Linked DNA regions of Homo sapiens: region 2 is linked to region 1. A link means that fine-mapping ties the variant in region 1 to the expression of a gene that starts in the linked region. Tissue or cell type: whole blood. Region 1 holds a variant in brackets; the other region holds the start of a gene. All regions are shown on one strand. Distances are between the middles of the regions. Region 1 has its middle 5.2 kb from the start of ZSCAN18. Region 2 holds the start of ZNF329 (zinc finger protein 329).

The links. PIP is the estimated chance that this variant, and not a neighbour inherited with it, causes the effect. A credible set is the group of variants that fine-mapping cannot tell apart.
Region 2: it holds the start of ZNF329, and the variant in region 1 is the best candidate, but not a certain one, in a credible set for the expression of ZNF329 in whole blood (INTERVAL, PIP 0.79).

Annotation. Positions count from the first base shown.
Region 1 is chr19:58,101,251-58,105,647 of GRCh38, reverse strand. It overlaps a transcript of ZSCAN18 not described here. Among named protein-coding and RNA genes, the nearest start is that of ZSCAN18, 5.2 kb to the right of the region's middle. The variant C/G (reference allele first, on the strand shown) is at 2,266.
Region 2 is chr19:58,148,700-58,153,096 of GRCh38, reverse strand. ZNF329 (zinc finger protein 329) reads left to right here and starts at 2,308. Exons shown (of 4, transcript NM_024620.4): 1 at 2,308-2,345. RefSeq lists an enhancer at 2,172-2,231.

The sequences.
Region 1 (4,397 bases):
ACTCTGTTGCCCAGGCTGGAGTGCAGTGGTGCGATCTCTGCTCACTGCAAGCTCTGCCTTCCGGGTTCATGCCATTCTCCTGCCTCAGCCTCCCGAGTAGCTGGGACTACAGGCACCCGCCACCACGCCCGGCTAATTTTTTGTATTTTTAGTAGAGACTGGGTTTCACTGTGTTAGCCAGGATGGTCTCGATCTCCTGACCTCGTGATCCACCTGTCTCAGCCTCCCAAAGTGCTGGGATTACAGGCCACTGCGCCTGGGCCAGCTAAACTGCATTCTTAAATAAGAAGACTGGAAAGGCAAAATTATTACTCCTTGGTCCATGGGCTGCAGAATACACGTTGTGTTGGCAGTTGCGAGAACAACATTAATTTCCTTCTATGTCTTCATCAGAGCTCTTGTCAGTGAGCAGCCATAATTTGAATCTTTTTTTCTCAGGAGGAAGTCTCTCAACAGTGGGTTTAAAATATTCAGTACACCATACTGTAAACACGTACTGTCATCCAGGCTTTGTTTACATTTATAGACAGCACTCAGAGTAGATTTAACTTAAATCTTAAGGCCCTAGGGTTTTCAGAATGGTAAATGAGCTTTGGTTTCAACTTAAAGTCACCAGTTGCATTAGCCCTTAACAAGAGTCGGCCTGTTCTTTAAAGCTTTGAAGCTAGGCACTGACTTCTTTCTAGTTGTGAAAACACTACCTGGCATTTCTTCCAACAGAAGGCTGTTTTCTTTACATTTAAACTGTTGTCTACTGTAGCGACCTTCCTCAGTGATCTTAGCTAAATCTGGAGAACTTGCTGCAGCTTCTGCATTAGCACTTGCTGCTTCACCTTGCACTTTTATGTTACGGAGATGACTTAAACTTCATGAACCAACCTCTGCTAGCTTCAGACTTTTTTATTTTATTTTATTTTATTTTATTTTATTTTATTTTATTTTATTGAGATGGAGTCTCACTCTTTTGCCTAGGCTAGTGTGCAGTGGCATGATCTCGGCTCACTGCCAACCTCTGCCACCTGGGTTCAAGCAATTCTCATGCCTCAGCCTCTTGAGTAGCAGGGATTACAGGCACTTGCCACCATGCCTGGCTAATTTTTTTTGTATTTTTAGCAGAGATGGGGTTTCGCCACGTTGACCAAGCTGTTCTCAAACTCCTGACCTCAGGTGATCTGCCCATCTCTGCCTCCCAAAGTGCTGGTATTACAGGCATGAGCCACCACACCCGGCCCAGACTTTTTTTTTGTTTTGTTTTGTTTTGTTTTGTTTTTGAGACAGCCTCACTCTGTTGCCCAGGCTGGAGTGCAGTGGCACGATCTCAGCTCACTGCAACCTTCGCCTCCCAGGTTCAAGCAATTCTCCTGCCTCAGACTCCTGAGTAGCTGGGACTACAGGCGCACGCCACCATGCCCAGCTAATTTTTGTATTTTTAGTAGAGGTGGGGTTTCACCATGTTGGCTAAGCTGGTCTTGAACTGCTGACCTCAGGTGATCCATCCCGCTTGGCCTCCCAAAGTGTTGGGATTACAGGCATGAGCCACTGTGCCTGGCCGGCTCAGAATTTTCTTCTGCATCTTCCTCGCCTCTCACAGCCTTCATAGAAATGAAGAGAGTCAGGACCTTGCTCTGGATTAGGCTTTGGCTTAAGAGAATGTTAGTTCTCTTTGGGTAGTTTGATCTCCTATCCAGACCATTAAAGCTTTCTCCCTATTGGCGACAAGGCTGTTTCAGTTTCTTGTCATTCACATATTCACTGGAGTCACACTTTTCATTTCCCTCAAGTTTTTCTCTTGGCCATCACAATTTGGCTGTTTGGCACAAGAGGGCTAAGTTTTGGCCTGTCTTTGACACGCCTTCCTTACTAAGCTTAATCATTTCTAGCTTTTGATTTGAAGTTAGAGGTCTGACTCTGCCTTTCACTTGAACACTTAGTGGCCATTGTAGGGTTATTAACTGGCCTAAGTTCAATATTGTTTTGTCTCAGGGAATAGGGAGGCCTGAGGAAAGAGATTGAGAGAGAGTGCGTACCAGCGAGCAATGGCAGGTTGGTGGAGGAATCAGGACACACAACATTTATCTGCTGAGTTCATTGTCTTATATAGGCGTGGTTCCTTTCACTCCAGAACAATTACAATAGTTACAACAAAAATTACTGATCACAGATCACCATAACAGATAATAATAATGCAATAGTTTGAAGTATTGTGAGAATTACCAAAATGTGACACAGAGACACAGAGAGCATATGCTGTTTGATAAATGGTGA[C/G]AATAGACTTAATTGACACAGGTTGCCACAAACCTTCAACTTGTAAAAAATGCAATATCTGCATAGGATAATTAAGCAAAGTGCAAGAAAACAAGGTAATGCCTATATCTGGAAGTTAGTCGTGACACAGAACCTAAAGACTTACCGTATTTCCTTTATTCTGTGATACATATCTTGCCATATTTTAACATCTGAAAACAAACCAGGTTAATCAGTGATATGGTTTAATTGGCAGCCTTTTTTTATTTTTTTATTTTTTTTTAGAGAGAGTCTCGCTGTGTCACCCAGGCTGGAGTACAGTGGTGCTATCTTGGCTCACTGTAGCCTCCACCTGCCAGGTTCAAGCGATTCTGCTGCCTCGGCCTCCCAAGTAGCTGAGATTAGAGGTGCACACCACCACACCCAGCTAATTTCTGTATTGTAGTAGAGACGAGGTTTTGCCAGGCTGGTCTTGAACTCCTGACCTCAGGTGGTCCACCCACCTCGGCCTCCCAAAGTGCTGAGATTACAGGTGTGAGGCACTGTGCTAGGCCTCAGGCAGCCTTTTATTAGCACATAAAATGTACATGTTACCATCTGTTATCTTGGAATCAATGAAATAAGAGTAATATCAGAAGGAGGAATTGAATGACTAGTGAGAGTCCATTTGAGGAGAAATACAACTCTCAAGGAAAAAATCTTGTTGCTGAGATGACAATTAACATTGACATATCCGATGCAGTACAAAATGGCAAGTCTGTGTGCCATTGTAGTCCTTCCTACCTTGCTGAATAATCATTGTTACCTGCCTTCTTTCTTATAGCCTGTGTCAGCCATAATTGTTATTTTATTGCAAGATTTTTAAAGTTCATAATGTGGGGGGAAGCCAAACAGCACAGAAGAGTATATGGTTTGTTTGTTTGTTTGTTTGTTTGTTTGTTTTGAGATGGAGTCTTGCTCTGTCGCCCAGGCTGGAGTGCAGTTGCGTGATCTTGGCTCTCTGCAAGCTCTGCCTCCCGGGTTCACACCATTCTCCTGCCTCAGCCTCCCTAGTAGCTGGGACTACAGGCGCCCGCCACCATGCCCGGCTAATTTTTTTGTATTTTCTTGGTAGAGACAGGGTTTCACCGTGTTAGCCAGGATGGTCTCAATCTCCTGACCTCGTGAGCAGCCCACCTCGGCCTCCCAAATTGCTGGGATTACAGGCGTGAACCACTGCGCCCGGCTGAGTATATGGGGTTTTTTAGTAAGCTGCCTAAACAGGGAAAAGTCACCGTCCTTATGGAGCTTCTACTCTAGCTTTTATACTGAAATACCTTTTGGTCAGTAATCGTGTGTGTGTGTATGCATGTGTGCATTTTGAGGCTTTTATTTATAAAAGAAAACATAATATGCCTGGAAGCTAATAGGTGCTCATTTAAGTGTGTGATCTCTGGCTGCTTAGAAGGCCTATATAGGAAACTCAACCCTAATTAAAGAAAAAAGTTATGTGAAATTACATGAACACACTGGTGCAGGACCATGTAAATATTAGCAGCATGGTTAGGAGTGAGATTCTGTCTCAAAAAACAAAGAAAAAAAAAAGGCTGGGTGCGGTGGCTCACACCTGTAATCCTAGCACTTTGGGAGGCCAAGGTGGGCGAATCACCTGAGGTCAAGAGTTTGAGACCAGCCTGGTCAACATGGTGAAACCCCGTCTCTACTAAAAATACAAAAATTAGCCAGGCATGGTAGCACATACCTGTAATCCCAGCTACTCAGGAGGCTGAGGCAGAAGAACCACTTGAACCCAGGAGGCAGAGTTTACAGTGAGCTGAAATTGCATCACTGCACTCCAACCTGGGTGACAGAGCAAGACTCTGTCTCAAAAAAAAAAAAAAAAAAGAAGAAGATAAAGTATATGGGAAAGCACAAGACTTGGAATAGTTAAAATAACTTTGAAAAAGAAAAAAAGTGGCCGGGCGCAGTGGCTCATGCCTGTAATCCCAGCACTTTGGGAGGCCAAGGCGGGTGGATCATGAGGTCAGGAGATCGAGACCATCCTGGCTAACATGGTGAAACCCTGTCTCTACTAAAAATACAAAAAAAAAAAAAAAAAAAAAAATTAGCTGGGCATGGTGGCGGGCGCCTGTAGTCCCAGCTATTCGGGAGGC
Region 2 (4,397 bases), 47 kb before region 1:
CAGCACAGTACTTAGCACTAAGGATTTCTCTTTGCCACTGAATGGAAAAAACACCCTTGTTATTATTAATGATGTTATGCTTTATTGTTAACTTTATTACTAGATTATTACTTTTACTCATCTCTTCTTGCATACTCTTCTATTCTTCTGATATTTGTGTCTGTATTAGTGCCTATTTGAGCCCATCTGCTTAATATGGTACATTTTAGTATCTAATAAAGGGTGCCTGACTTTTTTTTTTGAGACGAGAGTATAGCTGTCACCCAGGCTGGAGTGCAGTGGCACGATCTCAGCTCACTGCAACCTCCGCCTCCAGGATTCAGGCAATTCTCCTGCCTCAGCCTCCGGAGTAGCTAGGATTATAGGCACCCGCCACCACCCCCGGCTAATTTTTGTATTTTTAGTAGAGACAGGTTTCACAATGTTTGCCAGGCTGGTCTTGAATTCCTGACCTCAAGTGATCCACCTGCCTCGGCCTCCCAAAGTGCTGGGATTACAGTTGTGAGCCACCGCGTCCGGTCTCCGACTGTTCTTTTAACCAGATACTGTTGGACTTTTCTCCATATGATCTTTAAGTTGTTTTATTCTGTGAGCTGGGGGCGGGGGGAGTCTTTGAATTGGAATTGCTATACTTTTGTTTAGTAGTTTTGTGAAGATTTTTTTTTTTTTTTTGAGACCGAGTACTAGGATTGCAGGCATGAGCCACTGTGCCCAGCCAATTTTTATATTTTTAGAGATGGGGTTTCACCATGTTGGCCAGGCTCATCTTGAACTCCTGACCTCAGGTGATCCCCCCAGCCCGGCTTCCCAAAGAGTTGGAATTACAGGCATGAGCCACTGTGCCTGGTCTGATACGGCCTTCATGGAGAAATTAAAAAAATACTTTCCATTCAGGAATAATATGTCAGTGTGTTCTGAACTTAACTTCAGGTCTGTTAATGAGGTTTTTGTATTTTCTTCATGAAGATCCTTTATTGCTTTTGCTAATTGATTTCCAAGTTGCTCCAACCATCACTATTGTGAGTGACAATTTAATCACTATTATGGCTTAGAATTTTTTTTCTAATTTTCATTTCAAAATTGTGAAGTATTTCAACCTGCGGAGAGGTTCGGAGAGTAATAGAATAATCTATAAATAATAAAGATGACACCCATGTATCATCGAGATTTTACCTGTGTTAACATGTAGTCAGATTTTCAGGTTTTGATTTGTTTTTTCCTATCAAGCATCACAGGTGTAACTGAGGTCTCCTTTGTCTCCTCCCCAACTCTTTCCCCTCAGTTGCCACTTTCTTGAGGTTGGACAATCTATCTGGTCCATGTTATTGTTACTTTACTACTTATGTATCAATCTCTGTATAACATATAGATTTTGTGTCTTTTATTTCCAGGTAAGTTGTATCATGTGGATAAGTGCACAGTTTACTTTTCGAACTGTTTTTGGAGAACTGTCTATCTTGTATATAAGTTAGTCCTTTTTTTTTTTTTTTTTTTTGAGACGAAGTCTCCCTCTTGTCCCCCAGGCTGGAGTGTGATGGTACGATCTCAGCTCACTGCAACCTCCGCCTCCCAGGTTCAAGTGATTCTCTTGCCTCAGCCTCCCGAGGAGCTGGGATTACAGGCGCCTGCCACCACGCCTAGCTAATTTTTGTATTTTTAGTGGAGACGGGGTTTCACCATGTTGGCCAGGCTGGTCTCAAACTCCTGACCTTAGGTGAGCCCAGTCCGTTTGTTTTAACCACCCCCTATTGCTCCGTTGCACATACCACAGTTTCTCTCTTCCCTGTCAGTAAATATTTAGGCTTCCCCATGCTAAAGTTTAAGAGAACCACTGAAAGAATGAAAATGTGTAGTTTTCATTTTCAACCGGCTATTGTTACTACAGAGGAAAGTTACTGGCTTTGTTTACATTTCTTAGATCTAGTCATTTTAACAAATTAGGCCTCCCAAAATGCTGGGATTACAGGCGTGAGCCACGCACCCAGTAAATAATTATATTGCCAATGAATAATGAGTGTACTTATTCTGAATTTTAACATTATTATCTCAAAAAAAGATTATAGATAAAGAAATATTTTAGGAAATTATGCAGTAAATAAAAGGAAGGCTCTATAACAAAAGAATGATAGCATCGGGTTAAAAATCAGAGGAGACCATAGGAGAAAGTAAATGCCTGCGCGTCCGCCCCGAGGCAAGTCCACGCCAGGGTAATGAATAACCCGGTACCCGCGGCCGCCCCAGCGTTGGGCGGGGGAAGCTCGGGGACTCCGCGCACGCGCACATCCTTGTCCCGGCAGCCGCGCAAGCGCAATCGCCCGGAACATGGCTGCCGCCGGCCGCCAACCGTAAGTGCCGACGCATCCCTGAGCCCTGCGCTGCCTCCGTTTCCTGCGGAGGGAAGTCTTGGCGGGTGGAGGTCCGCCGGGTCCTTGTGGGGCGGCGAGGGGCGCGTCCGCGGGTGGGTTTCACCTGGGTGGTGGGCATGTCGGGCCCGCTAGGGCGAGGGTCTGGCCAGGGGCGTAGTTCTCCTGGTGGGTGGGGACGCTCCGTGGCGATTGGGGTCACTCCTCTGAGGACGAGGTCGCTCCGGGGCTGGTCTGGACGCCCCCGCTCTTTCCTTAGCGTCACCCGTGAGTTCCGCGCTCGCATCTCTAGCCCGCCCTCCCATAGAGACTGTTTTGCCACGCCTGCTGGGTGTCCTGGTCCGTCTCCGGGGGTAACCCCCGAGTCTGCAGCTTTTCTGTCAGGTGTGAGGGGCAGTGTAGGCTTGGGTCGGCCTCCGGCTGAATTGGCGGCCGTGAGCCAGTGGGCTGAGCCGCTTCCCCTTGAGTCTCGAAGGTGTTAGATCACCTGTGTGTTTTTCCATTTGATATTTGCAAAATCATGTTTTACTGCAATTCTCAGTGAGGGCCGCATTTTTGCACGTGTTTAGTGACCATTTTGCTGTCTTTTCCCTTGGTTTAGTGGCATATTTCCTTTGTGCAGTCTTCCAGTCTCAATATTTTATGACATAAAATGTTGGTTTAGATAGAGAAGCTGAAAGACTTGTGCAGTGAACGACCCGGTTAACGTCTGCTGAACTTACTGTATCCCTTATCTTTCCTTCTGTCCATCCTTTCAGCCATTCATTAATCCACCTATTTTTGGAAACATTTCAAAGTAAGTTGCAGATATCACAACACTTCTCCCTCAAACACCTCACTATGCTTACCATGAATTAGAGTTCAGTAGTGCTTTTTTAAATTTTTTGAGCCAAAATTGACTTTCAGTGAAATGCACAGATATTCCCTGTACCATTGATGAATTTTGACAAATGCAACCTAAACCTTTATTAAAATTACCATCAGCCTGAAAAGGTCCTTTATTTTTTGCCAAGTTAAAAAATTTGGCTATAGGAACTTGGGCTTGTTGAAGTACGTTTTGAATACCCAGTTTTTGTCTGTTTTTTCTTTTTTCCCACAGCAAGTGACTTTCCTCCATTCTACTGCTTGTTTACCTCTCTCTTCACCCAACTTTTCATTTTGAAAAGTTCCGCATTTGCATAGAAGTTGCAGGAATAGTTTAACACTTCTAAAACCATCCAGATTCTAAAATTATTAACACTTTTTGCCACATTAGCTTTATCTTTATCTTCTCCCTGCCTGAGACACATGCATAGGTGTTACCAGAAAGGGGGTCCCGAGCTATAACCCAACAGAGGGTTCTTATATCTTGGGAAAGAAAATTCAGGGCGAGTCCATAGAGTAAAGTGAAAGCAAGCTTATTAAGAAAGTAAAGGAATAAAAAAATGGCTACTCCATAGATAGAGCAGCCCCAAGAACTGCTGGTCGCCCATTTTTATGGTTATTTCTTGATTATATGCTAAACAAGGGGTGGATTATTCATGCCTACCATTTTTAGGCCATATAGGGTAACTTCCTGATGTTTCCATGACATTTGTAAACTGTCATGGTGCTAGTGGGAGCAGGACCAGAGGTCACTCTCGTTGCCATCTTGGTTTTGGTGGGTTTTAGCCACCTTTACTGCAAGCTGTTTTATCAACAAGGTCTTTATGACCTGTATCTTGTGCAAATCTCCTGTGTTATCCTATGACCTAGAATGCCTTAACTGTCTGGAAATGCAGCCCAGTAGGTTTCAGCCTTATTTTACCCAGTCCCCATTTAAGATGGAGGTTTGCTTTGGTTCAAACGCCTCTGACATAGGGTTTTCTTTTTATATTTTACACACACTTGTACACACAGCAGGTGTTGCAGAGGCAGGTGTGATACAGACATATATTTACATACACTTAGTTTTTTTGGCTGAGTTACTGGAAGTATGTTATAGATATCATACCTCACTCTGAAATACTTCAGCCAGGATCTCATAAGAAAAGTAACGTTCTTATTTTTTAATTT